Regions from separate parts of the Homo sapiens genome. Here region 1 is linked to region 2. Evidence: fine-mapped expression QTL. A gene starts in region 2. The other region holds a variant in brackets. All regions are shown on one strand. Distances are between the middles of the regions. Region 1 overlaps LCMT1 (leucine carboxyl methyltransferase 1). Region 2 holds the start of AQP8 (aquaporin 8).

Region 1 (14,065 bases), 37 kb after region 2:
GCTGAGGTAGGAGAATTGCTTGAACCTGGGAGGCAGAGGTTGCAGTGAGCTGAGATCATGCCATTGCACTCCAGCCTGGGCAACAGAGCAAGACTCCATCTCGAGGAAAAAAAAAAAATGAAAGGGTCAAGGAAGTTTGCATTTGGGGTGGGCTTTGAAGGTGGGCAGGGTTGCAGGCATGAACTCTGGGGAAAGCACAGGCCAAGGAGAGAGGCTGGCATTAGATACAGCCTGGCGGCACCTGGTTTTTTGACTAGAAAATAAGACTACATGTAAGATGAGGCCCAATCACAGAGCATCTTCCTTGCCTTGTTAAGAGTTGGGCGTTCAGGCATTAAGCAAAGAGGCAGCTTTGACAGTCTTTGGTCACTGGAATGATGTGCTCAGGGCTTCAGGGGACAGGTTTGTTGTCTACAGGAATGCAGGAGGCTGAGAACAAAGGCCAAAAAGATTCTTGTGAGACAGAAGACTGAGTCTGGGTGGCAGCAGTACAGTAGAGACAGTTATGATAAACACGCTGATTGAGGAAAAGGAACCAAACATGGCCTCCTAGCCAGTGAGGAGAACAAGGAGAAGCAAGGAGTCGATGACTCTGAGGATGCTGAGTGGAGTGGAGGTCCTGCTGGGAAGGAATTCAAAGCTCATTAAAGAAGAGCTATTTAGGGCCAGGCGTGGTGGCTCATGCCTGTAATCCCAGCACTTTGGGAGGCCAAGGAGGGTGGATCACCTGAGGTCAGGAGTTCGAGAGCAACCTGGCCAACATGGCAAGACCTCATCTCTACTAAAAATGCAAAAATTAGCTGGATGTGGTGACTCATGCCTGTAATTCCAGCTACTCAGAGGTTGAGGCAAGAGAATCGCTTGAACCTGCGAGGTGGAGGCTGCAGTGAGCTGAGACTATACCACTGCACTCCAGCCTGGGTGACACAGCAAAACTCCGTCTCAAAAAAAAAAAAAGAAAAGAAAAGTAAAGTTATTTAGGAGAGGGGGAAAGATGTATTTGGTTTTAGAAATGTTGTTTGAGAAGCTGGTGAGTCACCTAAGAGGAGGTTAAGATAGGCTCCTGGGAATTCCATCTAGGAGACATCAGACTTTTCCCTCTGTTTGGTTAATTAGGGTTAAGATCCAGGTTTCAGGCCGGCCACGGTGGCTCACACCTGTAATCACAGCACTTTGGGAGGCCAAAGCGGGTGGATGACCTGAGGTCAGGAGTTCGAGGCCAGCCTGGTCAACATGGAGAAACTCCATCTCTACTAAAAATACAAAAATTAGCTCGGCATGGTGGCGCTTGCCTGTAATCCCAGCTACTAGGGAGGCTGAGGTGGGAGGATTGCTTGAACCCGAGAGGCAGAGGTAGCAGTGAGCTGAGATTGTGCCACTGCACTCCACCCTGGGTGACAGAGCAGGACTCTGCCTCAAAGAAAAAAAGAAAAAAGATCAAGGTCTCAGATAAGCTTTGGAGTCTGAAGCCTATGGTGAGAACAGCTAGAGAGAAGATGAATAAGGAAACAGAGGACAGGAACAACACTGTGAACAAACTGGACCTAACAGACATGTGCAGGACACTCCACACACATGCAGCGAATGCATGTTTAATTAATACCAATTCTTCTCAAACTAATTCAAAAGAAAAAAGAAAAAGGAGGAAACACTTCCTAACTGATTCTAAAAGCATGGCCCCAGTACCAAAGCTAAATGAAGACCCTGGAAGAAGATTACAGACTAATATCTCATATAAAGATTGAGGCCGGGTGTAGTTGCTCACGCCTGTAATCCCAGCAGCACTTTGGGAGGCCGAGGCAGGTGGATCATTTGAGATCAGGAGTTCAGGACCAGCCTAGCCAACATGGTGAAACCCCGTCTCTACTAAAAATACAAAAATTGGCCAGGCATGGTGGCTCACGCCTGTAATCCCAGCACTTTGGGAGGCCAAGGCGGGTGGATCACTAGGTCAGGAGTTTGAGGCCAGCCTGGCCAACACAGTGAAACCCCGTCTCTACTAAAAATACAAAAAATTAGCCAGGCGTGGTGGCGGGCGCCTGTAATTCCAGCTACTCAGGAGGCTGAGGCAGGAGAATCACTTGAACCCAGGAGGCAGAGGTTGCAGTGAGCCAAGATGGTGCCATTGCACTCCAGCCTGGGTGACAAAAGTGAAACTCCATCTCGAAAAAAAAAAATTAGCCGGGCGTGGTGGCACATGCCTGTAATCCCAGCTACTCAGGAGGCTGAGGCACGAGAATCGCTTGAACCTTGAAGGTGGAGGTTGCAGTGAACAAGATTGTGTCACTGCACTCCAGCCTGGGCAACAGAGTGAGACTCTGTCTCAAAAAAGAAAAGAACATTACTAGGCTGGTTGTGGTGGCTCAAGCCTGTAATGCCAGTACTTTGGGAGGCTGAGGCAGGCAGATTGCTTGAGTTCAGGAGTTTGAGACCAGCCTGGGCGACATGGCGAAACCTCATCTCTACAGAAAAAATATCAAAAAAAGCCAGGCATGGTGGCAACATGCCTGTCATCCCAGCTACTGAAGAGGCTGAGGTGGAAAGATCACTTGAGCTGGGGAGTTGGAGGCTGCAGTGAGCCGTGATCAAGCCACTGAACTCCATGCTGAGCGACAGAGTGAGACCTTGTCTCAACAACAATAATAAAAAAGATGGATACAAAAATCCTCAACGAAAATTCTAGAAAACTGTCGCTCAGCGTGGAGTTCAGTGGCTTGATCACGGCTCACTGCAGCCTCCAACTCCCCAGCTCAAGTGATCTTTCCACCTCAGCCTCTTCAGTAGCTGGATGATAGGCATGTTGCCACCACGCCTGGCTTTTTTTGGTATTCTAGCAAACTGAACTCAGCAGTATATTAAAAGAATTATATGCCATGACCAAGTGGAATTATTCCTGGAGTGGCCCAATGTACAAAAATCAACCGATGTAATGTACCACATTAACCAAAGGGGAAAAAAAAACACACACACACACAATCATCTCAATTGATATAAACAAAAATTTGAGAACATTTATATCCTTTCATGATTTAAAAAGCACTCAACGAAATTAGAAATAGGAAATTAATTCAATATAATAAAGACTATTTATTTATGAGGCAGGATTTTGCTATGTTGTCCAGGCTGGAGGGCAGTGGCATGATCATTACTCACTGTAACCTCAAACTCCCGGGCTCAAGCTATCATCCTGCCTCAGCCTCCAAGTAGCTAGGCATGCACCACCATGCCCAGCTAATTTTTTAGTTTTTTGTAAACAAAGAGTCTTCCTATGTTGCCCAGACTGATCTCAAACTCCTGACCTCAAGCAATCCTCCCACCTCAGCCTCCCAAACTGCTGGGATTACAGGCAGGAGCCACCATACACAACCTGACCATATAAAAAAACCCACAGCTAATATCATACTCAACAACGAAAGACTAAAAGCTTTTTCTCCAATAGCAGGCATAAGACAAGGATGTCCACTTTTTACTACTTCTATTCAATATCGGATTGAAGGTAGACAGAGAAATTGTGCAAGAAAAACAAAGAGAAGGCATCCAAAATGGCACAGAAGTAACATTATGTCTGTCATGATCTTATATATAAGAAATCCAGGCCGGGCGTGGTGGCTCACGCCTATAATTCCAGCACCTTGGGAGGCTAAGGCAAGCAGATCACCTGAGGTCAGGAGTTCGAGACCAGTCTGGCCAACATGGTGAAACCCCGTCTCTACTGGAAATACAAAAATTAGCTGGGTGCGGTGTTGTGCACCTGTAGTCCCAGCTACTCGGGAGGCTGAGGCAGGAGAATCGCTTGAGCCTGGGAGGCGGAGGTTGCAGTGAGCAGAGATCGCACCATTGTACTCCAGCCTGGGCAACAAGAGCAAGACTCCATCTCAAAAAAAAAAAAAAAGAAAAAGAAAAAGAAAAGAAAAGAAAAGAAAAAAAGAACAAATATTGTTCTTTCGAAAGATTTCACGTACAGGAATATCTGAGAGATATTGCAGGTTTAGTTCCAGATCATCTCAATAAAGTGAATATCACATGAATTTTTTGGTTTCCCAGTGCATATAAATGTTATGTTTATGCTATACTGTATTCTATTACGTGTGCAATAGTATTATGTCTTTAAGATGTGCATGCCTTACTTTAAAAATACGTTATTGCTTTAAAAATGCTAATGATCATCTGAGCCTTCAGCAAGTCATCATCATTTGGCTGGTGGAGAGTCTTGCTTTGATGTTGATGGTTGCTGGTTGAGCAGGGTGGTGGTTACTGAAAGATCAGTGAATGGCTGTGCAGACAACAATGAAGTTTGCCTCATTGGTTGACTCTTCCTTTCCCGAAAGATTTCTGTGGCGAGAGAGGCTGTTTTACAGCATTTTACTCACAGTAGAACTTCTTTCAAAATTGGAGTCATTCCTTTTAAACTTTGCTGCTGCTTTATCAACTAAATTTGTGTAACATCTTAAATCCCTTATTGTCATTTCAACAATGTTCACAGCATCTTCAAGGATGTAGGAGTAGATTCTATCTCAAGAAACCACTTTCTCTGCTCATTCATAAGTAGCAATTCCTCATCCGTTGAAGTCTGATCATGAGATTGCAGCAATTCAGTCACATCTTTATGCTCCATTCCTAATTCTAGTTACCTTGCTATTTCCACCACATCTGCAATTCCTTCCTCTACTGAAGTCTTAAATGCCTCAAAATCATCCATGAGGGCTGGAATCAACTTCATCCAAACCCATTAAGGTTGATATTTCGACCTCCTCCCATGCATTACTAATTTTTTTTTTTTTTTTTTTTTTGAGACGGAGTCTAGCTCTGTGGCCCAGGCTGGAGCGCAATGGCGTGATCTCGGCTCACTGCAACCTCCGCCTCCCGGGCTCAAGCAATTCTCCTGCCTCAGCCTCCTCAATAGCTGGGATTACAGGCATGTCCCACCACACCCGGCTAATTTTTGCATTTTTAGTAGAGAAGGGGGTTTCACCATGTTGGCCAGGCTGGTCTTGAACTCCTGACCTCAAATGATTTGCCCATCTCGGCCTCCCAAAGTGCTGGGGTTACAGGCATGAGCCACCGTGCTCGGCTACTAATGTTCTTAATGGCATCTAGAATGGTGAATCCTTTTCAGAAGGTTTCCAATGTACTTTACCCAGATCCATCAGAGAAATCACTACCTATGGTGGCTACAGCCTTACAAAATGTATTTCATTATTATTTTTTTTTTTTTTGAGATGGAGTCTCACTCTGTCGCCCAGGCTGGAGTGCAGTGGCGTGATCTTGGCTCACTGCAACCTCTGCCTCCCAAGTTCAAGCGATTCTCCTGCCTCAGCCTCCCAAGTAGCTGGGACTACTGCCGCCCGCCACTGCGCCGGGTTAATTTATGTATTTTTAGTAGAGACGGGGTTTCACCATATTGGCCAGGCTGGTCTGGAACTCTTGACCTTGTGATCCACCCACCTCGGCCTCCCAAAGTGCTGGGATTACAAGCGTGAGCCACTGCACCTGGCCTTACAAAATACATTTCTAAATAGTAAGACTTGAAAGTCAAAATTACTCCTTGATCCGTGGGGCTGCAGAATGAATGTTGTGTCAGCATGCATGAAAACAGCATTCATCGCCTTGCACATCTCTGTCAGAGTTCTTTGGTGACCAGGTGCACTGTCAATAAGCAATAATATTTTGAAAGTAATTTTTTTTCTCAGTAGTAGGTGTCAACAATGGCCTTAAAATACTCAGTAAACCACACCGTAATCAGATGTGCTGTCACCTGGGCTTTGTTGTTCCATTTCTATAGCACACAGATTTGGCACCTTTTTTTTTTTTTTTTGAGACAGAGTCTCACTCTGTCACACAAACCGGAGTGCAGTGGCACAATCTTGCTTCAGTGCAACTTCCACCTCCCAGGTTCAAGCAATCCTCGTGCCTCAGCCTCCCAAGTAGCTGGGACTACAGGCATGCACCACCACACCCAGCTAATTTTTGTATTTTTTAGTAAAGATGGGGTTTCACCATGTTGGCTCGGCTAGTTTCGAACTCCTGGCCTCAAGCAATCCGCCTGCCTTGGCATGACCCACTGCACCCAGTGGATTTAGCATAATTCTTAAGGGCCCTAGGATTTTCAGAATGGTAAATAAGCACTGACCTTAACTTAATGTCACCAGCTGCATTTCATACTAGACACTAAGAAGTCAGGCTTTCCTATGAAGTTTTGAAGCCAGGCATTGAATTCTCCTCTCTAGCTTTGGAAGTCCTAGATGGCATCCTCTTGCAAGAGAAAGCTGTTTTGCCTACATTGAAAATCTGTTGTTTAGTGTAGCCACCTTCCTTCATCAATGATCTCAGCTGGATCTTCTGGACAACTTGCTTCAGTTTCTCCATCAGCACCTGCTGCTTCACCTTGCACTTTTATGTTATGGAGACGGCTTCTTTCCTTAAACCTCAGGAACCAACCTCTGCTAGCTTCCAACTTTTCTTCTGCAGCTTCCTCTCCTCTCTCAGCCATCACATAATTGAAGAGAGTTAGGGCCCTGCTCTCGATTAGGCTTTGGCTTAAGGGAAGGTTGTGGCTGGTTTGATCTTCTATACAGACCGCTCAAACTTTCTCCATATCGGTAATAATACAGTTTCGCTTTCTTATCATTCATGTGTTCACTGGAGTAGCACTTTTTCATTTCCTCCAAGAACTTTTCCTTTGCATTCACAACTTGGCTGTTTGGCACAAGAGGTCTAGCTTTCGGCCTATTTCAGTTTTTTTTTTTTTTTTTTTTTTTTTCAGATGGAGTCTCACTCTGTCACCCAGGCTGGAGTGCAGTGGTGCCATCTTCGCTCACTGCAACCTCTGCCTCCCAGGTTCAAGCGATTCTCCTGCCTCAAACTCCCAAGTAGCTGGGACTACAGGCGCCTGCCACCACACCAGGCTAATTTTTGTACTTTTAGTAGAGATGAGGTTTCACTATGTTGGCCAGGCTGGTCTCAAACTCCTGACCTCAGGTGATCCGCCCACCTCGGCCTCCCAAAGTGCTGGGATTACAGGCATGAGCCACCACAGCCGACCCTATTTCAGCTTTTGACGTGCCTTCCTCACCAAGCTTAATCATTTCCAGCTTTGATTTAAAGTGAAAGGCATGTGACTCTTTGTGACTCTTCCTTTCACTTGAGCATGTAGAGGCCATTGTAGGGTTATTAACTGGCCTAATTTCAATATCAAATTTGGAATAGGACGGATGGGAGGATCACTTGAACCCGAGTTCAAGACCACCCCTGGCAACATAGGGAGACCCTGTCTCCACAAAAAAAGTTAAAAATAGCCAGGCTTGCTGGTGTGTGCCTGTGGTTCAGTTACTCAGGAGGCTGAGGAAGGAGGATCACTTGAGCCCAAGGAGGTTGAGGCTGCAGAGAGCTATGACTGCACTACTGCACTCCAGCCTGGGAGATGGGGCAAGACCCTTTCTGAAAACAACAACAACAAAAAGTAAACATTGTGGGGCCAGGCACGGCGGCTCACGCCTGTAATCCCAGCACTTTGGGAGGCCGAGGCAGGTGGATCACGAGGTCAGGAGATAGAGACCATCCTGCCTAACGTGGTGAAACTCCATCTCTACTAAAAACACAAAAAAAATTAGCTGGGCATGGTGGCGGGCTCCTGTAGTCCCAGCTACTTGGGAAGCTGGGGCAGGAGAATGGCGTGAATCCGGGAGGTGGAGCTTGCAGTGAGCTGAGATCGCGCCACTGCACTCCAGGCTAGGTGACAGAGCAAGACTCCGTCTCAATAAAAAAAGTAAACATTGTTTCTGCTAATGCTATACATATACCAGAGTTACCCCTTTCCTGTGGTTTTGTTTTCCAAGGTTTCCGTTACCTGAGGTCAGTTGAGGTCCAAAAATAAGTGAGTATAGCTAAGATATTTTCTTTTTTTCCAAGATGGAGTCTTGCTCTGTCATCCAGGCTGGAGTGCAGTGGCGCAATCTCGGTTCACTGCAACCTCTGCCTCCTGGGTTCAAGCAATTCTCCTGCCTTACAGATGCCTGCCACCAAGCCCGGATTTTTTTTTTTTTTTTTTTGTATTTTTAGTAGAGACAGGGTTTCACCATGTTGGCCAGGCTGGTCTTGAACTCCTGACCTTGTGATCTGCCCATCTCAGCCCCCCAAAGAGCTGGAATTACAGGCGGCGGGGCGGTGGGGGGGGGGTTTCACCATGTTGGCCAGGCTGGTCTCGAACTCCTGACTTCAGGATCCACCTGTCTTGGCCTCCCCAAGTGCTGGGATTACAGGCGTGCACCACTGCACTCGGCCAGTTAAGATATCTTCAAAGACCACATTCACATAACCTTAACATATTGCTATAGTTGTTCTTTTTTAAATTGTTGCTAGTCTTACTGCACCTAATTTATACATTTTATCACAGGTATTTATTGATAGGAACACATCCCATCAACTGGCATGCCACTAGAGGTGCAGGGCCCACACTCTAGGGGACACTGATTTAAGGATTCTGAATGGTAGAAGAGAGGCTGTTACCTCTCCAGCAGAGGAGAGCGCTGGGGACTTCTGCAGTGCCACCCTGCACATGCAGGTTCAGGCTCGCAGCGCCAGTCACATAACTTAAGAAGTCCCTGTAGACAAGGTCTACCCATCACTCAGGGAGTTCAGCAGACAGGTATGGGACAAGCCTTATGTTTCTGAAATATGAGGTCATCACTCAGGGGCCCTATGAACCTGTCTCATAACTGCATTGACTTCTAGTTGTGGCTGTAAGTTTAAGCCCCCAACTTGGTGGCTCAAAACACCACAGATCAGTCTGGGCACAGAGGCTCATGCCTGTAATCCCAGCACTTTGGGAGGCCAAGACGGGCGGATCACTTGAGGTCAGGAGTTCGTGACCAGCCTGGCCAACATGGTGAAACTCTATCTCCACTAAAAATACAAAAATTAGACAGGCATGATGGTATGCACCTGTAATCCCAGCTACTTGGGAGGCTGAGGCGGAAGAATCACTTGAACCCGGGAGGCAGAGGGTGCAGTGAGCCGAGATCGCGCCACTGCACTCCAAGCCTGGGCAACAGAGCAAGACTCCATCTAAAAAAAAGAAAAAAAAAAAAAAAAAACCACCACCACAGATGTATTCTCTTACGGCTCTGGAGGTGAGAAATCTGAAATCGATTTCTCTGGGCTAACATCAAGGTGTTGGCAGGCAGTTCCAGCTGGAGGCCAAGGGAGGGTCTGCTGCTATTGCCCTAGGTAGCATCCCCTGGTTGCCCCTGCTTCTTGTCTGGGCCCCTCTGACTCTGACGCCTCGTCTGTCCCTCTAATGAGGACCCCGTGATCCTATCAGGCCCACCTGGATAACCCAGGACCACCTCTTCATCTCAAACCCCTAATCCCATTTGCAAAGCCCCTTTGCCACAGAAGGTAACACACACTCACAGGTTCTGGGGATCAGGACATGGACACTTTAGGGGCCATTCTTCAGCCTGCCACCATGACCAAGATGAAGGAGGCAACTGAGCAGGCCAGTGTGGCCAGGGCGGAGACAGGAGCCCGAGAAGAGCACTAGCCTCACATCTGGTGGAGGACAAGGGTCAGGGAGTGAGGCACAATGTCATGTGCTGCAACAAACAGCATGTGAGGGAGTAGATCCTAAAATGGACTCAAGGTCATGGGCCGGGTGTGACTCACAGGGAGTAAGCCAAGGTCAAAGCAGACTTGGGGTCCTTGGCTTTAGCTAACACAGAGGTGAACCCTGGCCCGCCCAAGCCATGGGGCACGGAACGAGCAGCGGCAGCCAGCAGAGGTCCAACCACAGGCGACTGGTGGCAAGTGAGATTTATTTAAACAACGACATGTCAACAGGAACAGGAAGAGGAACATGTGCGACCACTGTAGTGACCAAGGCTTCTCAAGAGTGTGGGATGAGACCTGCGGACGAGGCCCGCCCACCGCTCAGG[G/C]AGCTTGCAGGTCTCCTCCAGGAGGGCAAGTGGCTTCGGCTTCTGGCTCGGCATAAGCCTTCGACAGATTAATAAGTTATCTCCTTCAGCCCTGAGGGGAGAGACACACAGACACCATTAGGAGACTCTGGTGGCCAGGAGCAGAGGCCCCTAGAGGACCCCCAGTGACCGGCTCAGGGGCACCAGCCACACTGCTGACCACTGTAGCACCGCCCTCCTGCTACATAAAATGAGGTTTCGCAAGGAAACAAAAGGTTGGGTAAGACTGTGTTTATGGGTGGTTTTAAAATGATTAAGAAAACATTATAACAGTTTATGGACTGTCTGCAGTTAACGCCAAAAATCTACCCTTTATGTGCTGAACTTTGAGCAAAGGCAGATACGGATCTTCCACACACACAGACAAGCACTGATGTCCCAAAGCAGTCACGGGTCAGTGGGGACAAAGTAAATTCCTGACATTAAAATGCTCAATATATTGTTCCTTTGTGAGAACTAGAGTTCACTTAAAAGTATTACAAATAACCTACATTTCCAAAAATATGGAAATATTAATTCAGCCATAGTGACATAATACAATATTATAAAGCCATTACAATTATGCTCATTGAGCATTTTTAATTGCCAGGGGGAAATGCTAATGTTATAACATTAAATTGAAAACACTTGAAATCAAAGTTGCATAAATATAAAAATTCAACTCTTATTATAAAAACAAACAAAACACTATTTAGAAATAGAGGGGAAGGGAAAAGTCACAAGAGGTCATCTCTGACTGACAGGCATACAGGTGGATTTTCTTAGTCATACTTTTTAGAAGCTTTTAAGTTTCCTACTAAGAAGTATTTTTTAATATAATTAAGAGGAGGATAACATACAAATACCCCAATAAGTGACTTTTTTTTTTTTCTGGAGACAGAGTCGCGCTCTGTTGCCCAGGCTGGAGTACAGTGGTGCCATCTCAGCTCACTGCAACTTCTGCCTCCCGGGTTCAAGAGATTCTCCTGCCTCAGCCTCCCAAGTAGCTGGGACTACAGGCATGTGCCACCACGCCCAGCTAAATTTTGTATTTTTAGTAGAGACGGGATTTCACCATGTTGGCCAGGCTGGTTTCGAACTCCTGACCTCAGGTGATCTGCCTGCCTTAGCCTCCCAAAGTGCTGGGATTACAGGCATGAGCCACTGCGCTCAATTCACAATAAATGACTTTAAATCCAAAAGGAATGTGAAGGCCAGGCACAATGGCTCATGCCTATAATCCCAGCACTTTGGGGGGCCGAGCCAGGCAGATCACTTAAGGTCAGGAGTTCGAGACCAGCCTGGCCAACATGGTGAAACCCCATCTCTACCAAAAATACAGAAATTAGCTGGACATGGTGGTGGACGCCTGTAATCCCAGCTACTCAGGAGGCTGAGGCAGGAGAATCACTTGAACCCAGGAGGCGGAGGTTGCAGTGAGACGAGATCATGCTACTGCACTCCAGCCTGGACAATGAGCAAGACTCCATCTCAAAAAAAAAAAAAAAAAAAAAAAAAAAAAAGCCAAAAAAAAACAAAAACCAAAACCAAACAAAACAAATGTGAAAGGATTGTGTGGGCTGAGCTGCATAGCTAGGCAAATCTGTGTGGAATGACAGGTCCAAAGGGGCTGATTATCAGTCTCATGTCAACCTGGAATTTTTGCATAGGGAATGGTCCTTGCCTCTGTCAAGTTCTGTTTCGGATCAGCTGCCCGCTTGTGACCACATGTCATGTGGATTACATCTGCGGGAAGCTTGAAGGGCAGCTATTCCACTGAAGGCCGGAACTGGGATCTAAAGTGGCCTCCATCGGGCTGGAGAGACACTCAAAGCCTAACCACTGGGGGAGGCAAGCCCAGCAGGGGGCAGCTGAAAAGGAGCTGGACCAGGACAAAGGTAACAAGAAACAGAGATAGATCCACGCCTGTTCTCCGTGGCCCTACTCGGCCACAGACAGGCATGTGCACCTTAATGAGAAGAGGGAAAATTCAGCCCCTAGCTGCATGGGTTTGTAAGCAAGATGTACTGATCTGTGCGTTTAACATCCAGTGAACCTGGTTGTAAGTGGATGGAAAAGACAAACGCCGGTTACTTTTCTAGAGATTTTTAAACTCTCAAGCTCTTTTACCTTCCAGCTGTGGGAACTCCACAGTACATCTCTCAAGGGTTGTTTTGGGCTACAAGGCTTAAACAGTTCTCTTGGTTTTTGTGCTATAAAAGCACAAAAGATATAACAGCAAGTTCTCTGGATATGCTCACGGATACATGTACATCATCCTCTAGTTCTTTCTGGGCCCAAAGTTCCAAATACATCTTTCATTTTGGGAAGAAGAAAAGTTCCGGCCAGGCACAGTGGCTCATGCCTGTAATCCCAGCACTTTGGGAAGCTGAGGCAAGAGGATTGCTTGAGGCCAGGAATTCTTTATTTATTTATTTTTTGAGACAGGGTTTCGCTCTTCTTGCCCGGGCTGGAGTGCAATGGTGCAGTCTCGGCTCACTGCAACCTCCACCTCCCAGGTACAAGTGATTCTCCTGCCTCAGCCTCCCAAGTAGCTGGGATTACAGGTGCCTGCCACCACGCCTGGCTATTTTTTTTTTTTTTGTATTTTTAGTAGAGACGGGGTTTCATCATGTTGGCCAGGCTGGTCTCAAACTCCTGACCTCAAGTGATCTGCCCACCTCAGCCTCCCAAAGTGCTGGGATTACAGGTGTGAGACCCCGCGCCCAGCCTACTTGAGGCTAGGAATTCAAGACCAGCCTTAGAGAGACCTCTACAGAAAATTAGCCAGGCTCCTGTAGTCCCAGCTACTCAGGAGGCAGGAGGATCACTTGAGCCCAGGAATTGAAGGCTGCAATGAGCTATGACCGTGCCACTGCACTCTAGCCTGGGTGACAGAGCGAGACCCTGTCTCAAAACAAGAAAGAAGGGACAGAGAGAGAAAGAGGGAAGACAAAAAACAGAAAGAGAAAGGGAAAGAATAGGAAAAAGAAAAGTTCACTATTTCCAGGTCAAGGCAAGAAAAGTACAATCACGCACCAAGCTCATTTCCTCCTTTGGTTGCCCAGCAAAGGCAGTAATGCCGCATGAGCTGCTCCAGCAGCTCCATTTCATCCAGGAATTCAAGTGATTCTATCCTGTGGAAAGAATTAAAATAGAACGATGCAAGTGTCTGCATTGAAAATGAAGATCATGGCCCATAGCTACGGATATGAAAAAATGTTTATGATAGATTAAGTGGAAAGAAGGCGGCTATAAAATAGTAATTATGGTGTGGCTCCATTTTAATGTCTTTTCACTGAAAAGAAGAAAAAATACCATAAACAAAGTCAAAATACAAATGCCAAACTAGAAACATATATTTGCAATTCAAGTGGCAAAGGGCTGAGTTCCTTATTATATAAAGAGCTGTTAAACTTCAGTAAGAAAAACTAGTGGCAACTGGAGGAGACAGGCAGAGTAAATTGAAGCAGATTCATACTGTCAAAACAGGACACTATGCAGCCATTTTTAAAAATGGGGTAGGTCCATACGTATTAATATGCAATAACCTCCAAGACATATATATCATGGAATTTAAAAAGCAAGTTGCGTAATTTAAAAAGCAAGTAATGTGCATATTACACCACTCTCTATGTAAAGAAAAAGTGAGACAAATTTGTCTGTATATGTACAGACTTTTGGAAAATACAGAAGAAACTAGAAATGGTAGTTGTCTCTTAAGAGAGAAGGTAGTAGACCAGTAGTGAGGAGGGTTGTTTTTACTCTATACTACTTCATTTTGGTTTTGTAAAAAATTATATGCATGTATGACTTTTCCCAAAAAGCCTTTTAAATGTAAACTTTTAAACATACATACACAGGTTGGGTGAAGTGCCTCACGCCTGTAATCCCAGCACTTTGGGAGGCCATGGTGGGTGGATCTCCTGAGGTCAGGAGTTCGAGACCAGCCTGGCCAACATGGTGAAACCCCATCTCTATTAAAAATACAAAAATTAGCCTGGCATGGTGGTGCCCACCTGTAGTCACAGCTATTTGGGAGGCTGAGGCAGGAGAATTGCTTGAACCTGGAAGGCGGAGGTTGCAGTAAGCAGAGATCGCGCCACTGTACTCCA
Region 2 (15,478 bases):
ACCCCATTCACCTTGATGTGATAATTATGCATTGCATGCCTGTACCAAAACATCTCATGTAACCCAGAAATATATACACCTACTAGGTTCACCCACAAAGCTTTAAAAATATACATATAAAGAAAGAAAAACCCCAGCCCAGATAGTTCTAGGTGTGGGAACCTCCATGAACCTCTCTGTGTTCAGGTGAGGTGAAAGTGACTATCCCATAGGTTGTCATCAGGAGTGAATGAGAAAATGCAAATGGAGCCCACACCTCGAATATAATTAATGTACAAAAAGCATTAACTAATCTAGCTGGTCCAGATGAGGCCCTTGTTGCACCACAAGCTTAAGACCCAGAATCCTACAGGGAGACTCTTCCCCAGGTGCACTCCTCTCGTTCTGGGGCTCTGTCTTTACCCCATTCTCTCCAGCTGGGGGCCTGTAGACCTCATCCCCACCCTGTGTCCAGCTTCGAAGTCAAAAAGCTTGTAAGTAGGCGGGGCGCGGTGGCTCAGCCTGTAATCCCAGCACTTTGGGAGGCCAAGGCGGGCGGATCATGAGATCAGGAAATCGAGACCATCCTGCCTAATACGGTGAAACCCCGTCTCTACCAAAAATACAAAAAAAAATTAGCCGGGCGTGGTGGCGGACGCCTGTAGTCCCAGATACTCGTGAGGCTGAGGCAGGACAATGGCGTGAACCCGGGAAGCGGAGCTAAAAAAAAAAAAAAGGGCTTGTAAGTGAATCAAAGACCACTAGGGGGCAGCAAAGCATGGCCACAGCTTTACACACACATTCCCCAGCCTGCCCCAGGCTCCACCTCCCAAAGTTGAGGGAGAGCTGACCCAGGAGAAAGGTTAGACTTGGTTCTGTGTCCAAAAGAAAGGAAAGAGTCAGACATTAGGGAGGGGCTCCCTGGGCTGGGCACTGTGGCTCATGCCTGTAATTCCAGTACTTTTGAGAGGCCAACGCAGGAGGATGGCTTGAAGCCAGGAGTTCAAGACCAGCCTGGGCAACAGAGCGTGACCCCTATCTCTACAACAAAAATTAAAAGGGTTCACTCAGCCTCTTGTCCCAAATCTATCACTTAATTTGCCACTGCCCACTGACCTTAAATAAGTCACTTCTGTCCTCTCTAAGCCTCAGTTTCCTTATCTATAAAACGGGAGACATCATCCCCAATCTTGTCTACTTAATCCCTTCCAAAGCCTGCTGGGAGTCTAAAAATAAATGAGACAACAGCTACACATGCTCTTTGTAAGCCTGAGGCTAAAACCCGGCTGCCCGCTGACCGAATGAACACAGTTCACAGAAATGTTGTATTTACGCTACCAACATTGGAAAACATCACATACAGATTTAAATTTCTGACTTCCTTTGAATGAAAGCATCAGCCCAGACCCATGTACCCAGCAATAATTGACAAGAGCTGAACTGACTGCAGCACCTCTGACACTGCAGTCCCCACCACTCCCTGTTGTCTGCCTGATGCCAGCCCCCCTCCCCATTTGCAGCACCTTCCTGGCCCCTAATAGCAACTGAATCTGTGACCCTCAGGCCTGAAATCCCCCAGAGCTGAACAGCACAGATCTGGGCATGGTCACCCCACTGCCAAGGGACACTCACCCAGCCAGGATATCCACGGTGACGGCAAAGCCGATGGAGAACGGGGCCAGAGGGCCCTTTGTCTTCTCATTGATGGCACCCATGCATACAGCCAGGGCCAGCAGCGTCGTCAGGATGATCTCTGCCACCAACGCCCCTGCCACCTGCCCCTGCTCCTGGACTGTCACAAAGGCCGCCCCAGATGCATTCCAGAACCTCTCCTCAGGACTCACCGCCTGCACAGAGAAGCTGCTGAGCCTCACAGTGGGGCAGAGAGACAGCTGGAAACTGAGGGGAGAGGGCCTAAAAAACGCATGCTACCCACCTTAAGAGCCAGTGAAGGGTTATGTCCAATTTCAGTTAGATATACCTGCATCCACATCCCAGCTCTGCCAGATTTTACTGTGCGACCCTGCGTGAACTACTGAACCTTTCTGAGCCTCACTTTGTTCAGCTGAAAAATAGTAATGGGGCTAGGCGTGGTGGCTCACGCCAGCAACCCCAGCACTTTGGGAGGCTGAGATGGGTGGGTCACTAGAGCCCAGGAGTTTGAGACCAGCCTTGCCAACATGGTGAAACCCCATCTCCACTACAAATACAAAAATTAGCGGGGTGAAGTGGCAGGCACCTGTAATCCCAGCTGCTCAGGAGGCTGAGGCACCAGAATCACTTGAACTCTGGAAGCAGAGGTTGCAGTGAGCTGAGATCACACCACTGCACTCCAGCTTGAACAACAGAGCAAGACTCCGTCTCAAAAAAAAAAAAAAGAAAAAGAAAAAGAAAAATGGGGATAACCCAGTCATGGCTCCAGGTTACAGACCTAAAACTTATGTAACTTAGATGATCCTCTTTGAGAAAAAGAACATAAACTATCTTTTTATTTTTCTTTGACACAGAGTCTAGCTCTGTCACCCAGGCTGGAGTGCAGTGACACGATCATAGCTCACTGCAGCCTGGACCTCCTGGGCTCCAGTGTTCCTCCTACCTCAGCCTCTCATGTAGCTGGGACCACAGGTACATACCAACCATGCCCACCTAATGTTTTTTTTAAAATTTTTTGTAGAGATGGAAGGTCTTACTATGTTGCCCAGGCTGGTCTGGAACTCCTAGGCTCCAGTGATCCTCCCGCCTCTGCCTCCCAAAATGCTGGGATTACAGGCACCAGCCGCCATGCGTGGCTAAAAATACCTTACTCTTAGAAACTTTACAAACACATATGATCAGGTGAACTCATTGCTAAGCCCCCACAGGACCGTGGAAGGGGCATGTGCAGGAGAGCCCTGAAGCCTGAGCTCAATTATTTCTATGGGCGATCGGCCTCAGGGCTATCACAGCCCCGAAGGGGAAAGACAGTGCAGTGCACAAGCTTCTGGACTCTGGATCCAGTCGGGGCTGTGCTGCTTACAGGCACGTCTGAACTTGAGCAAGTTACCTGCTTCTCTGCACCTCTGTTTTCTCATCTATAAAATAGGGATGATACTGACAGCTCCCAGCTCACAGACAAGGCCGTTGGTGTGCCTGGCACAAGGTAAGCGCTCTCTATGAACTGACTATGGTTTTTCATAAAGTTGCTGGGAGATGAAATAAGAGAATATGTGTAAAACATTTAGCAGGAAGAATGTGCTTAGGGAACCCTGCTGCCCCGCAGCTGTCAGAACCATGTTTGACAGGTTTTAAGTGGCAGGGCTTGAGCTCGAGTCTGGCCACTGCTTTTCAGAGCAGAAGCCGAGAAGGAAGGTCCCGGGCGTGTTCCATAGACAGGGGAACAGGCTGTGGCTCTCAAATTGGGACATGGAGAGACCACAGCAGGGGATGACAGTAAAGTGAGGCTTGAGAACAAAGTCTGCGGTGGGTCAGCACTTACAGCTTCAGACCCTATCACAGCCAAGCTGACAGAGCTCCCCCATCCACCACCCCCCACACACACACCAAGCAAGGCCCACATCTTGAAGGGCTTGAAGTATCCCTGGCTGAACCAAGACTTAAGGGCAAAAGAAAAGAAAGAAAGAGAGGGAAAAAAAAGAAAAAGAGGGATGAAGGGAGAAAGTCTATCCATGGATTTATGCATAAAGCTATGAAAACTCTGTGGCTGGCCAGGCTCGGTGGCTCATGTCTGTAATCCCAGCACTTTGGGAGGCCAAGGCAGGAAGATCACTTGAGGCCAGGAGTTGGAGGCCAATGTGGTCAACACAGCGAGAGCCCACCTCTACAGAAAAAAATTTTTTTTAATTTATTTATTTTTTATTGATAATTCTTGGGTGTTTCTCACAGAGGGGGATTTGGCAGGGTCATAGGACAATAGTGGAGGGAAGGTCAGCAGATAAACAAGTGAACAAAGGTCTCTGGTTTTCCTAGGCAGAGGAAATTAGTTGGGTGTGGTGACACACACCTGTAGTCCCAGCTACTCAAGAGGCTGAGGCAGGAGGATCACTTGAGCCCAGGAGGTCGAGCCTGCAGTGAGCTATGATTGCACCACCACACTCCAGCCTGGACAACAGAGTGAGACCCTATCTCTAAAATAAAAAAGAGAGGCCGGGCACAGTGGCTCATGCCTGTAACCCCAGCACTTTGGGAGACCAAGGCAGGTAGATCACTTGAGCTCAGTAGTTCAAGACCAGCCTGGCCAACATGATGAAACCCCGTCTCTACTAAAAATACAAAAATTAGCTGGGCATGGTGGCATGCGCCTGTAATCCCAGTTACTCAGGAGGCTGAGGTGGGAGAATTGCTTGAGCCCAGGAGGCAGAGGTTGCAGTGAGCCAAGATCAGGCCACTGCACTCCAGCCTGGGTGACAGAGCAAGACTCCATCTCAAAAAAACAAACAAATAAAAAATACAATAAAATGCAATAAGAAAGAAAGAGAGAAGAAAAACGTCCACCAATTCCACTGGCAGAAACAAGCAAAAGATTGGACATTTCCCCACTCCCCACTGTCCCACACACACACCCACATATGCACCTCCAGCAGCCCCATCAGAGAGGAAGACTAGCCCAGCCCCTGGGGTTTACCCACCTTGGCCAAGGCAGCCCCGAGCATCCCCCCGAGCAGCTGTGAGACCCAGTACGGGAGGAGCATCACCAGGTTGAGGCCTCCGATCAGCATGGCTGCCAGGGACACCGCAGGGTTGAAGTGTCCACCACTGTAACCCACAAGAGCAGAGGAAGTCATGAGCCCAGGGCTGACCACATGGCTGGCACTTGAGACAGTGTGTCCCAGCCAACCCACCAGGCTGGCCTCTCAGGGCAAGAGTCAGTCCGGGGCCCAGCTCAAATACAAAGAGGCACCAAATTGCTTCCATTTTCCCTGAGATGCCAGGCAGAGGGTAAGAGATAAAGGGCAGCCTCTAAGTCCAAAGCCCAGCCCCCAGGATGGCCCTGGAGGAAGAGCGTGTAGGGAGACCATCCCTTAACTCCTCCCTGACTCCCTCCAAGCCTCCCTCCAGCCCTTCAGAGATGTGGCCACAGGTCAGATTGAGATACCAAGGCTCCAAGTTAGTAGCCCAAGAGCGGTATCCAGGCCTCCCCTTATGATTTGTTTGATTTTACGAGACGGAGTCTTGCTCTGTCGCGCGGGCTGCAGTGCAATGGTGTGATCTCGGCTCACTGCAGCTTCCACCTTTTGAGTTCAAGCAATTCTTCTGACTCAGCCTCCTAAGTAGCTGGAACTACAGGTGTGTGCCACCACGCCTGGCTTATTTTTGTATTTTTAGTAGAGACGAGGTTTCACCATGTTGGTCAGGCTGGTCTCAAACTCCTGACCTCAAGCGATCCACCCACGTCGGCCTCCCAAAGTGCTGGGGTTACAGGCACGAGCTACCGTGCCCGGCCCGGGTCTCCCTTTATGAGTAGCTAGGCCCTGAATAAGACCTCCTGATTGGTTGAACTGCTCAGCCAGTGAAAACCCTACTTGTGGTCTGAAAGTGTGATGGGTGTAAAATGCAGATTTGGAGTTCAGGCTGAAAATGGCATTGAGAATCACGGGGTGGAGTTGGAGGTTCATGACCAGGTTAGGGATTGGGATTGGGAGTTTGGGGTGTGGAAGGGAATTAGACAAGTCAGAACCTGAGGTCAAAGGGCAGGTTGCAGTTGATCAGCCACCCCCTGGCTCATGGGTAAAGAGCCTTCGTGTTCACCAAGATGTTCAACCAGCCCAGGCCCCAGAGCCAGGGTGGCTGCACTCACATCAGTGTCCCAACCAGTCCCACTCTGATGGAGGAAATATTGTCACAGTTTGGCCTCCTGAATCCATCTGGTTTCCAGGAATGGATACTCCCCAATGAGAGAGAAAGGGACCCCAAGACTCCCCATGTCACTTGAGAACCAAAGTGCCCCCCTAATGTAAAGAGCCCACCAATGAGCTTACCCATCCTCCAAAGGACATAGGACATTCAGTTGAGACTGGGCAGAGGACCTCAGCTCTGCCCAAAAGGACTTTGTCCAACACCCTGATAGCTCGAGACCAGCTACCCCAACTTGTCTGGCTCAGCTCTGGGCCCAGGCCCTCAGATAAGCTCCATGCACGGTTTGATTTGATTTGTTTTTTGTTTTTTGTTTTTTTTTTTGAGACAGGGTCTCCCTTTGTCACCCAGGCTGGAGTGCAATGGTGCAATCTCGGCTCACTGCAACCTCCGCCTCCTGGTTTCAAGCGATTCTTCTGCTTCAGCCTCCCAAGTAGATGGGATAACGGGGCTGCCACCACGCCCGGCTAATTTTTGTATTTTTGGTAGAGACGGGGTTTCACCATGTTGGCCAGGTTGGTCTCGAACTCCTGACCTCAGGTGATTCACCTGCCTCGGCCTCCCAAAGTGCTGGGATTACAGGCGTGAGCCACTGCGCCTGACCTCCATGCATGGTTTGAAAGCACCAGCCAGTGCTCAGACTCCACAGGTTGGGAAGAGGGGCAGCCAGGCCTACTTGGCCTCAAGTAGCTTAGCCTGGGCTCTGCTGAGATACACAGATGAAGTCAGGGTGAGGCGGCTTCCCAGGGGAGCCCCAAAGGGGAGAGAAACTGTCACCCAGAGCATGGCTCTATCAGGAGGGCCAGGTGACGAAAACCACACATTTCCTGGTTTACACTCATTAGCAATAAAACAATCAAGACACATTCATTCATTCATTCATTGTTCACTCAGCATATATTTCTCTGACACTTACTGTGTGCCAGGGGCTGTGCTGGGTGCTTATAACTTACATACATAGCTTATCCTGGATCCAGTGAACAACCTCAAAGTCAGTGTCTGGCACGCAATAGGTGCTGAATAAATATTTGTCAAAAAAGCCAAACAGAGAGGCAGTATTTGCAGTGCCAAAGAGATGGTCTTTCCAGCCAGCTGGCCTGGGTTCAAAGCTCAACTCTGCCACTGAAGAGCTGTGTGGCATTGGCAAAGTTACATAACCTCTCTGTGCCTCAATGATCTCTGCCTGATAAAGCTATTGCAAAGATATTAAGAATTAATATTTGTACAGCCCATAGTAGTATCTATGTAGTTAGCATTCAAAAAACATCAGCTATTATTATTACTCATATTTATACCACTGCACACAGAGGCTTCAGCAACTTGCTGTGGTCACCCTGCTAAGAAGTGATAAAGGTTGCCTTCAATCTCAGATCCGTCCAAAGGGAAGATCATGTACTTTTTGTTTCACTTGCAGCCTCCCTTGGACGTCTAAAGAGATGTGGTTTGTTTTTTGTTTGTTTGTTTGTTTGTTTGTTTTTTGGAGATGGAGTCTCACTCTGTTGCCCAGGCTGGAGTGCAGTGGCACAATCTCGGCTCACTGCAACCTCTCCCTCCCAGTTCAAGCAATTCTCCTGCCTCAGCCTCCGAAGTAGCTGGGACCACAGGTGCCTGCCCCCACGCCCAGCTAATTTTTGTATCTTTAGTAGAGACAGGGTTTCACCCTGTTGGCCAGGCTGCTCTCCAACTCCTGACCTCAGGTGATCCACCCGCCTCAGCCTCCCAAAGTGCTGGGATTACAGGCGTGAGCCACTGCACCCGGCCTAAAGAGATGTTAAAGCTCTTTTCCATTCTGGTTTTCTCAGAAATAGTATTTCTGTTTCCTCATTCAGATCTATTTTTTGAGTGAGATTTAATACAGACCAACCATGTCCCAGATCACCCTGCCAGGCACCCCACTCAAGATCTTCGTCGTGATGGCTGGCTCTCCTGGGAACCAGCAGCCATGTCCACAGACCTCCCCATTGAGCCTCTACCCAGACGAGAGCTAAGCCAGAGAAGCCTGTCCCTTTCCCTGCCCCTCCTTCTTGATCACCTCTTGACAAGCCAGGACCACTGCAGATCTCTGCATACCCAGGTGGGAAAACCTGGCTCAGGTCTTCTATGCATTTCTGCTTTCCCTAAAACCCCCTTCTAGTGGTAACAATAACACAGCAACCAATGCCTGTTGTATGTTTGGTGTGTGCCAGGCGCTCTACTTCATTTAATTCTCATGACTTCCGCATGAGGCACTTGGATTTGAGCGCTGGAGCCAGACAGCTTGTTCTTGACTCCCGCCTCTGCCACTTTCTGGCCCTCTAAGCTTGGACAGATTACATGGCCTTTCACTTTTGCAGCTGTACAATGGGGCTAATAACAGGACCTACCCCACAAGGCTTTTGTGAGGATTAAATAACTAATATCTATAAAGTAATTAGACTAGTGCCTGGTACATGGTTAGCAATATAGATATGTTGGCTTGAAAAAAAAAACATTTAAAAGCTACTATTCCCATTTTATAGGCGGGGAACTTTGGGTTTAGAGAGTAACTTGCCAGCCAGGCATGGTGTCTCATGCCTGTAATCCCAAAACTTTGGGAAGCCAAGGCAGGAGGATCGCTTGAGACCAGGAGTTCAAGACTAGCCTGGGCAACATAGTGAGACCCCATCTCTACAACAAAATTTAAAAATTAGTTGGGTGCTGCGGCGCATGCCTGTGATCCAGCTACTCAAAAAGAGAATGACTTGCTCAAAGTCACAAGCTCACAGGCTGCGGGGTCTGGAGTTGACCCCAGTCTGACTCCCAACCCCATAGTTATCCAGAGCGCTCCTTGAAATCCCGAATACGTATGCGCCCAGGGGTCCTTGACAACGCCTTTGCTTTCCACACCCAGTGCCCCAAGTCAGCATCAGGCTGAATCCTCAGAGCTGGTCTCACCTGATATTCCCCAGCGTGGCAATCACGAGCCCCAAAGCCAGCCCGTGGGCCAGGGCCGGCTGCAGCAGCCCAGTGTCCGTCCCATTCTCAATGACCGACAGGCACCCGATGAAGATGAAGAGAGCAGAGCCCAGCAGTTCGACCAGACATGGCTGCACAAACCGTTCGTACCAGGACACTCGCCACCTGCCACCCACGCTCGGCTCCCTGGCCTTGTCATTGCCAAATTCAGGCTCACACATGGCTATCTGCCGTAGGGAAAAAGGGACAGAGGACACGGGTGGGAGGCAAGTCCAGATATAGAAGGCCCCGACCCCCAACCTTGAATTAATTCACAGCCCCCCTTGCTCTGCCAGCCTGGAGAGGAAGATGCCGACAGAGGGCTCACCTCTCCAGACATCAGGATCAGATGGCACAAACATCGGACTCTTGCCTGAGCTGCTGGGAAACCTGCACCTGCTGTGCAAGATACTCTTATCTCCTAGGGACAGGACCTGCTGATCACACTATGGGCTCTGCCCCTTTTAAAGGGCTGCAGAGGCTCAATGCTGGTGCAGAGAAAGCAATAAACCTCAGGTAGGAGGCGGCTCTGAGGCCCAGAAGAGGAAATTTTTTTAAATCTCAACAGGGCAGGGTGAGGGAGTCAGGGATTGCTGAACTTTCCGCCAGTGAGGGAAAAACACGCCAGCTTGGCTGTGTCATCTGGGAGCACACTCCAGGCTGTAGAAGGTGGGAGATGGGTCCAGCACCCCAGCTCCCCACGGTCCAAAGCAGAACAGCACATGTTAGTGGGCCCCACTGGGTTGGAACCTCACATGTTAAGAAACAGCAAACAGCCAGGTGCAGTGGCTCACGCCTGTAATCCCAGCACTTTGGGAGGCCGAGGCAGGTGGATCACGAGGTCAGGAGATTGAGACCATCCTGGCTAACACGGTGAAACCCCGTCTCTACTAAAAATACAAAACTCAGCCGGGCGTGGTGGTGCACGCCTGTAATCCCAGCTACTTGGGGGGCTAAGGCAGGAAAATCATTTGAACCTGGGAGACGAAGATTGCGCAGAGCCAAGATTGTGCAACTGCACTCCAGCCTGGGCAACAGAGCAAGGCTCTGAAAAAAAAAAAAAAGGAAAGAGAAAGAAGAAAGAAAGACAGAGAAAGAAAGAAAGGAAAGAAAAGAAAGAAAGAAAGAAAGAAAGAAAGAAAGAAAGAAAGAAAGAAAGAAAGAAAGAAAAAGAAAGAAAGAAAGAAAGAAAGAAAGAAAGAAAGAAAGAAAGAAAGAAAGAAAAAGAAAGAAAAAGAAAGAAAGAAAAGAAGGAAGGAAAGAAAGAAAGAAAGAAAGAAAGAAAGAAAGAAAGAAAGAAAGAAAGAAAAAAGAAAAAGAAAGAAAAGAAGGAAGGAAGGAGAAAGAAAGAGAGGGCGTGTTGGTGTTTGCCTGTAATCCCAGCTACTCAGGAGGATGAGGCATGAGAATCACTTGAACCCAGGACCCAGAGGTTGCAGTGAGCCAAGATCGCGCCACTGCACTTCAGCCTCAGAGTGAGACCCTGTCTAAAAAAAAAAAAAAAAAAAAGAAAGAAAGAAAGAAAAAAGAAAAGAAAGAAACAGCAATCCCATTTTCAATTATTTTTCCAATGAGTCCCACAGCTTCAAACACCTGCAGTCACCGTGACAGCCTGAGCCAGGACTGAGTGTATAGATGACGATCCTTCACAGACAGAGGCAGCAGAGACTGGCAAGAGGTAATGCAATGCAGCGGCAAGACCCATGAACTTTGGAAATAGGCTGCCTGGCGTTCAATCCCAGCTCTGCTGTAAACTAGCTATGTAACCCTTGGGCACATGACTTGGCCTCTCTGGGCCTTTGTTTTCTCATCTGTTAGGTGTGGATGTTAGTGGTTTCACCATGTCATAGGGTCGTTGGGAAGTTTAAATGAGATAATACGGGTAAAGTGCTCAGGACAGTGCTAGACACACAATACCAGTGTCCACTAATTTACAATACATGCTTAGCTGTAACTAATAGCTAATAGTGAGCACTTTCTATGTGCCAGGCACTGGGGCTAAGTGCCTTCTATTATCTCATTTAAACCTCACTGCCACCCTGTGAAGCAGGTACTATTATTACAACCATTTCACAGACGAGGAAGTGGAGTGTCAGGAAGATTGAGTTTCCCAAGATTACACAGCTTATATGATCACAGAACTTGTGGGCTGTCACAAAAGGATAAATACTGTATCTGATTCCACTTGTATGAAGTACCTAGACTAGTCAAATTCATAGAGACAGAAGTAGAATGGTGGTTTCCACGGCCCGAGGGGAAGGGAGAATGAAGAGTTTGTGTTTAGCGGGTACAGATTTCCTGTTTGGGAGGAAAGTTTTGGGATGGATGATACAGTGGCACAACAATGTGAAGTACTTAATGTCACTGAAATGTACACTTAAAAATGGTTCCAAATGCTGGGTGTGCTTGGCTCACACCTGTAATCTCAGCACTTTGGGAGACCAAGGCAGGAGGATCACTTGATTTTAGGAGTTTGACACCAGTCTGGCCACATGGTGAAACCCTGTCTCTACTAAAAATACAAAAATTGGCTGGGTGTGGTGGTGCACGCCTGTAATCCCAGCTACTTGGGAAGCTGAGGCAGGAGAATCGCTTGAACCTGGGGGGCAGAGGTTGTAGTGAGCTGAGATCACACCACTACACTCCAGCCTGGGTGAGAGGATGAGACTCCATCTCAAAAAAAAAAAGGTTAAAATGGCATATTTTATTTTATGTGTATCTTGCCACAATTGAAAAAAAATACTTGTGAGCTAACCCACTACACTCTACTGCCTTTCTAAGAGAGATGGATGGATGGATGGATGGATGGATGGATGGATGGATGGATAAGTGGATGGATGGGTGGATGCATGGATGGATGGGTGGATGGATGGATGGATAGATAGATGGTTGGGTGGGTGGGTGGGTGGATGGATGGATGGATGGATGGATGGATGGATAGATGGGTGGGTGGATGGATGAATGGATGGATGGATGGATGGATGGTTGGAAAGAAGGGAAGAAAGAAAGGAAGGGAGGGAGGAAGGAAGGGAGAAAGGAAGGAGGAAGGAAAGAAAATGAGATGAGTTCCTTATTCATTCATTCACTCACCAAACATTTAAATAGCTGCTGCAAGCCAGTCACTGTTCTAAGCTGGCTGGAGATGTAGCAGTGAACAAGACAGGCAAAATCCTGCTCTGTCTCATAGCTTTATCTTTGAGTGTTTGTATGCACTGATAGAGAAGTCAAGCTAGAGCTAACGGAATTTTAATGCTCATTTCTGACATTTCTCAACTACTCACTACATCTCCAACACCATGCTAAACACTCGGTATATATTCGTAAACCCCTTTGAGATAAGTCCTATCACTTATTATCACCATCTTCAGATGATAAAAACGAGGCACAAAGAAGTTAAGAACTCACCCATGGCTGTGTACATAAAAATATCTGCTTCAGGACAGAAGTGGACATATCTAGAGAAGAGCGTGACAGTTTGTTGACAGCCCATGTCAGCGAGAGGCCCAGGAATACAGGGTCTCTGCCAAATATCTGCACCTCTAGGAAGGTTATTTTTAGCCCTGTTCTCTACCTCCTCCATATCCCACAGCACATCATACAAGATGTTTCTTAGACCCTTCCTTCCACATCCTATAAATAGCAACATAAGATAGTCTGACCCAAGGCTTCCCCATCCCCCTCATTATTTGCTCAAATCCTGCCAGTACTGCTTCCAGAATAATTCTCTCTTGTTTTCACCCATGCCTTCATCTGTTCTTGCTTAGTCCCTTGAACAAAGAAAAACTAAGCTGGATGCACTGGCTCGCACCTGTAATCCCAGCACTTTGGGAGGCCAACGCGGGCAGATCACAAGGTCAGGAGTTCAAGACCAGCCTGACCAACATGGTGAAACCCCATCTCTACCAAAAATACAAAAATTAGCTGGGCATGGTGGCACACGCCTGTAATCCCAGCTACTCAGGAGGCTGAGGCAGGAGAATCGCTTGAACCTGGAAGACGGAGGTTGCAGCGAGCCGAGATCACACCACAGCACTCCAGCCTGGGCCACAGAGCGACACTCCATCCCACCCCCCCACCCCCCAAAAAATGGATTCTTTGCTCACATAATAGTCCATGACAGGCTCGTCTCCAAATGGTGACTCAGGGATCCAGGCCACTTCCATCTTGGAGCTGCCCCATCTAGGTCCTCAGATCTTCTCCAGCAAAATGGGAAAAAGAGAATGTGGAGGGCTGTGCAGGAAATTATTATGGGCTAGGCCTAGAAATACCATATATCCCTCTCACCTATATTTGATGGGCTCAAACTCAGTCACGTGGCTTCACCTGACTGCAATCGAGCCTGGGAATTGTAGTCTAGCCCTGTGCCCAGGAGGAAAAAGAAAGGCATTTTATGAATATCGAGCAATTTCTGCCACATACTAGAAATTGTTGCTTTCCCAGAGACCATGGTTCTAGTTGAGTTTTTCCCTGAATTAAATCATTCAGTGTGTCCCATGGTTCCAAGACAAACCCAGACTCCCTTAGCTAGCCACAGAGACTTCAGTTCCTAGCCCCTGAATCATCTCTTGCCACATGAACCCTAAACAATTTATCAGATAAGCTATGTACCCTCACCCGGCCTTGTCCATGCCAGTCCCTCTGTTTGGAGTCCTTGTTTGCCCTCTTGGCCAACTTCTACTCCTCATTCAGATCTCAGATCAGATATTATGTCCTCTCTGATGCCTGGGCAAACTACCTATTGGTCCTCTAAAAACACCCTTCCCTTGCTCAAGGCAAGGTTGGATTCCATAACTCCAAAACTAGGCCAGTGCAGCGGCTCATGCCTGTAATCCCAGCACTTTGGGAGGCCAAGGCGGGTGAATCACAAGGTCAGGAGATCGAGACCATCCTGGCTAACACAGTAAAACCCCATCTCTCCTAAAAATACAAGAAATTAGCCGGGCATGGTGGCACGCGCCTGTAGTCCCAACTACTCAGGAGGCTGAGGCAGGAGAATTGCTTGAACACGGGAGGTGGAGATTGCAGTGAGCCAAGATTGCACCACTGCACTCCAGCCTTGGCAACAGAGCAAGAGTCCGTCTTAATTAAAAAAAGAAAAAAAAAAGGAAAGAAAAAGAAAACTAGTGGCTTCCAGGGAAAACCTGAATGCCATTCAGACAAAACAACATATTTCCACTACATGAGAGTTTTAGAGTATGTCCTGATGTCCTCATACACAATATACTGTCTCTCAAAACCACTGAAAAACCTAGTGGGCTAAGGAGATACTGTCTTCCTAAAAAATTCTTTGGCTGGCAAACTTCCTAGTTTTCCAAATCCAGGTCTGGTTAACAGGACCAAGGCTTCTAATCTTTATCCCTGTTTGGTTGGCAAGACTTCTCTGCATCTATACCTGTCTGCCATCCCCCACCAGGTCCAGATGGAGTGTAGAAACAGGTCACATTTTACCCTGGCATCTCACCTTTCCCTTCTCTCTTGCCTTGATGGCTGCACTGTTGTGCCAGATGTGACGCTGCTGCTGTGGCAGCCATCTTGGACCGTATATATAGGCCAGATGTAGTGGCTCACCCTTGTAATCCCACCATTTTGGGAGGCCGAGGCAGGTTCATTACCTGAGGTCAGGAGTTTGAGACCAGCCTGGCCATATAGTGAAACCCCGTCTCTATTAAAAATACAGACATTAGGCCGGGCGCGGTGGCTCACGCCTGTAATCCCAGCACTTTGGGAGGCCGAGGCGGGCGGATCACGAGGTCAGCAGATCGAGACCATCCCGGCTAAAACGGTGAAACCCCGTCTCTACTAAAAATACAAAAAATTAGCTGGGCGTAGTGGCGGGCGCCTGTAGTCCCAGCTACTTGGGAGGCTGAGGCAGGAGAATGGCATGAACCCGGGAGGCGGAGCTTGCAGTGAGCCGAGATCCCGCCACTGCACTCCAGCCTGGGTGACAGAGCGAGACTCCGTCTCAAAAAAAAAAAAAAAAAAAAAAAAAAATACAGACATTAGTGGGGCGTTGTGGCACACACCTGTAGTCCCAACTACTCAGGAGGCTGAGGCAAGAGAATCACTTGGACCTGGGAAGCAGCAATTGCAGTGAGCCAAGATCACATCATTGCACTCCAGCCTGGGCAACAGAGCAAGACTCCATCTTAAAAAAAAAAAAAAAAAAAAAAAAAAAAAATATATATATATATATATATATATATATATATATATATATATATATAAAATAAAATAAATATATATATAATATAAAATATATAGATATAAAAATATATATATATATGATTGTAAAACCTAAGACCAGTACTTGAGCTATTCTGCAGACCCTGTACTTGATGGATCAGCTAGCACCACCACCTAGATGGATAAACTGGCTCATGTGATCTTGTGGGCTCCCTCAGGAACTGACTCAGCGCAAGGAGACAGCTTCAACTCCATATAATTTCATCTCTGACCAATCAGCACTCCTGACTCACCGGCTTACTCCCACCCACCAAGTCGTCCTTAAAAACTCTGACCCCTGAATGCTTGGGGAGACTGATTTGAGTAATAATAAACTGGTCTTCTGCACAGCCAGCTCTGCGTGAATTACTCTTTCTCTATGGCAATTTCCCTATCTTGATAAATTGGCTCTGTCTAGGCAGCGGGCAAGGTGAACCTGCTGGGAGGTTATGTA

The links. PIP is the estimated chance that this variant, and not a neighbour inherited with it, causes the effect.
Region 1: its variant is fine-mapped to the expression of AQP8 in tibial nerve (GTEx, PIP above 0.99).

The regions. Positions count from the first base shown.
Region 1 is chr16:25,173,959-25,188,023 of GRCh38, reverse strand. LCMT1 (leucine carboxyl methyltransferase 1) reads right to left here. Exons shown (of 11, transcript NM_016309.3): 10 at 12,990-13,087; 11 at 9,796-10,023. The coding sequence ends at 10,001. It also overlaps the pseudogene RN7SL557P. Among named protein-coding and RNA genes, the nearest start is that of LCMT1-AS2, 32 kb to the right of the region's middle. The variant G/C (reference allele first, on the strand shown) is at 9,933.
Region 2 is chr16:25,210,710-25,226,187 of GRCh38, reverse strand. It overlaps AQP8 (aquaporin 8), which reads right to left and starts at 9,241. Exons shown (of 6, transcript NM_001169.3): 1 at 9,131-9,241; 2 at 8,743-8,990; 3 at 4,605-4,731; 4 at 1,612-1,826. The coding sequence starts at 9,142.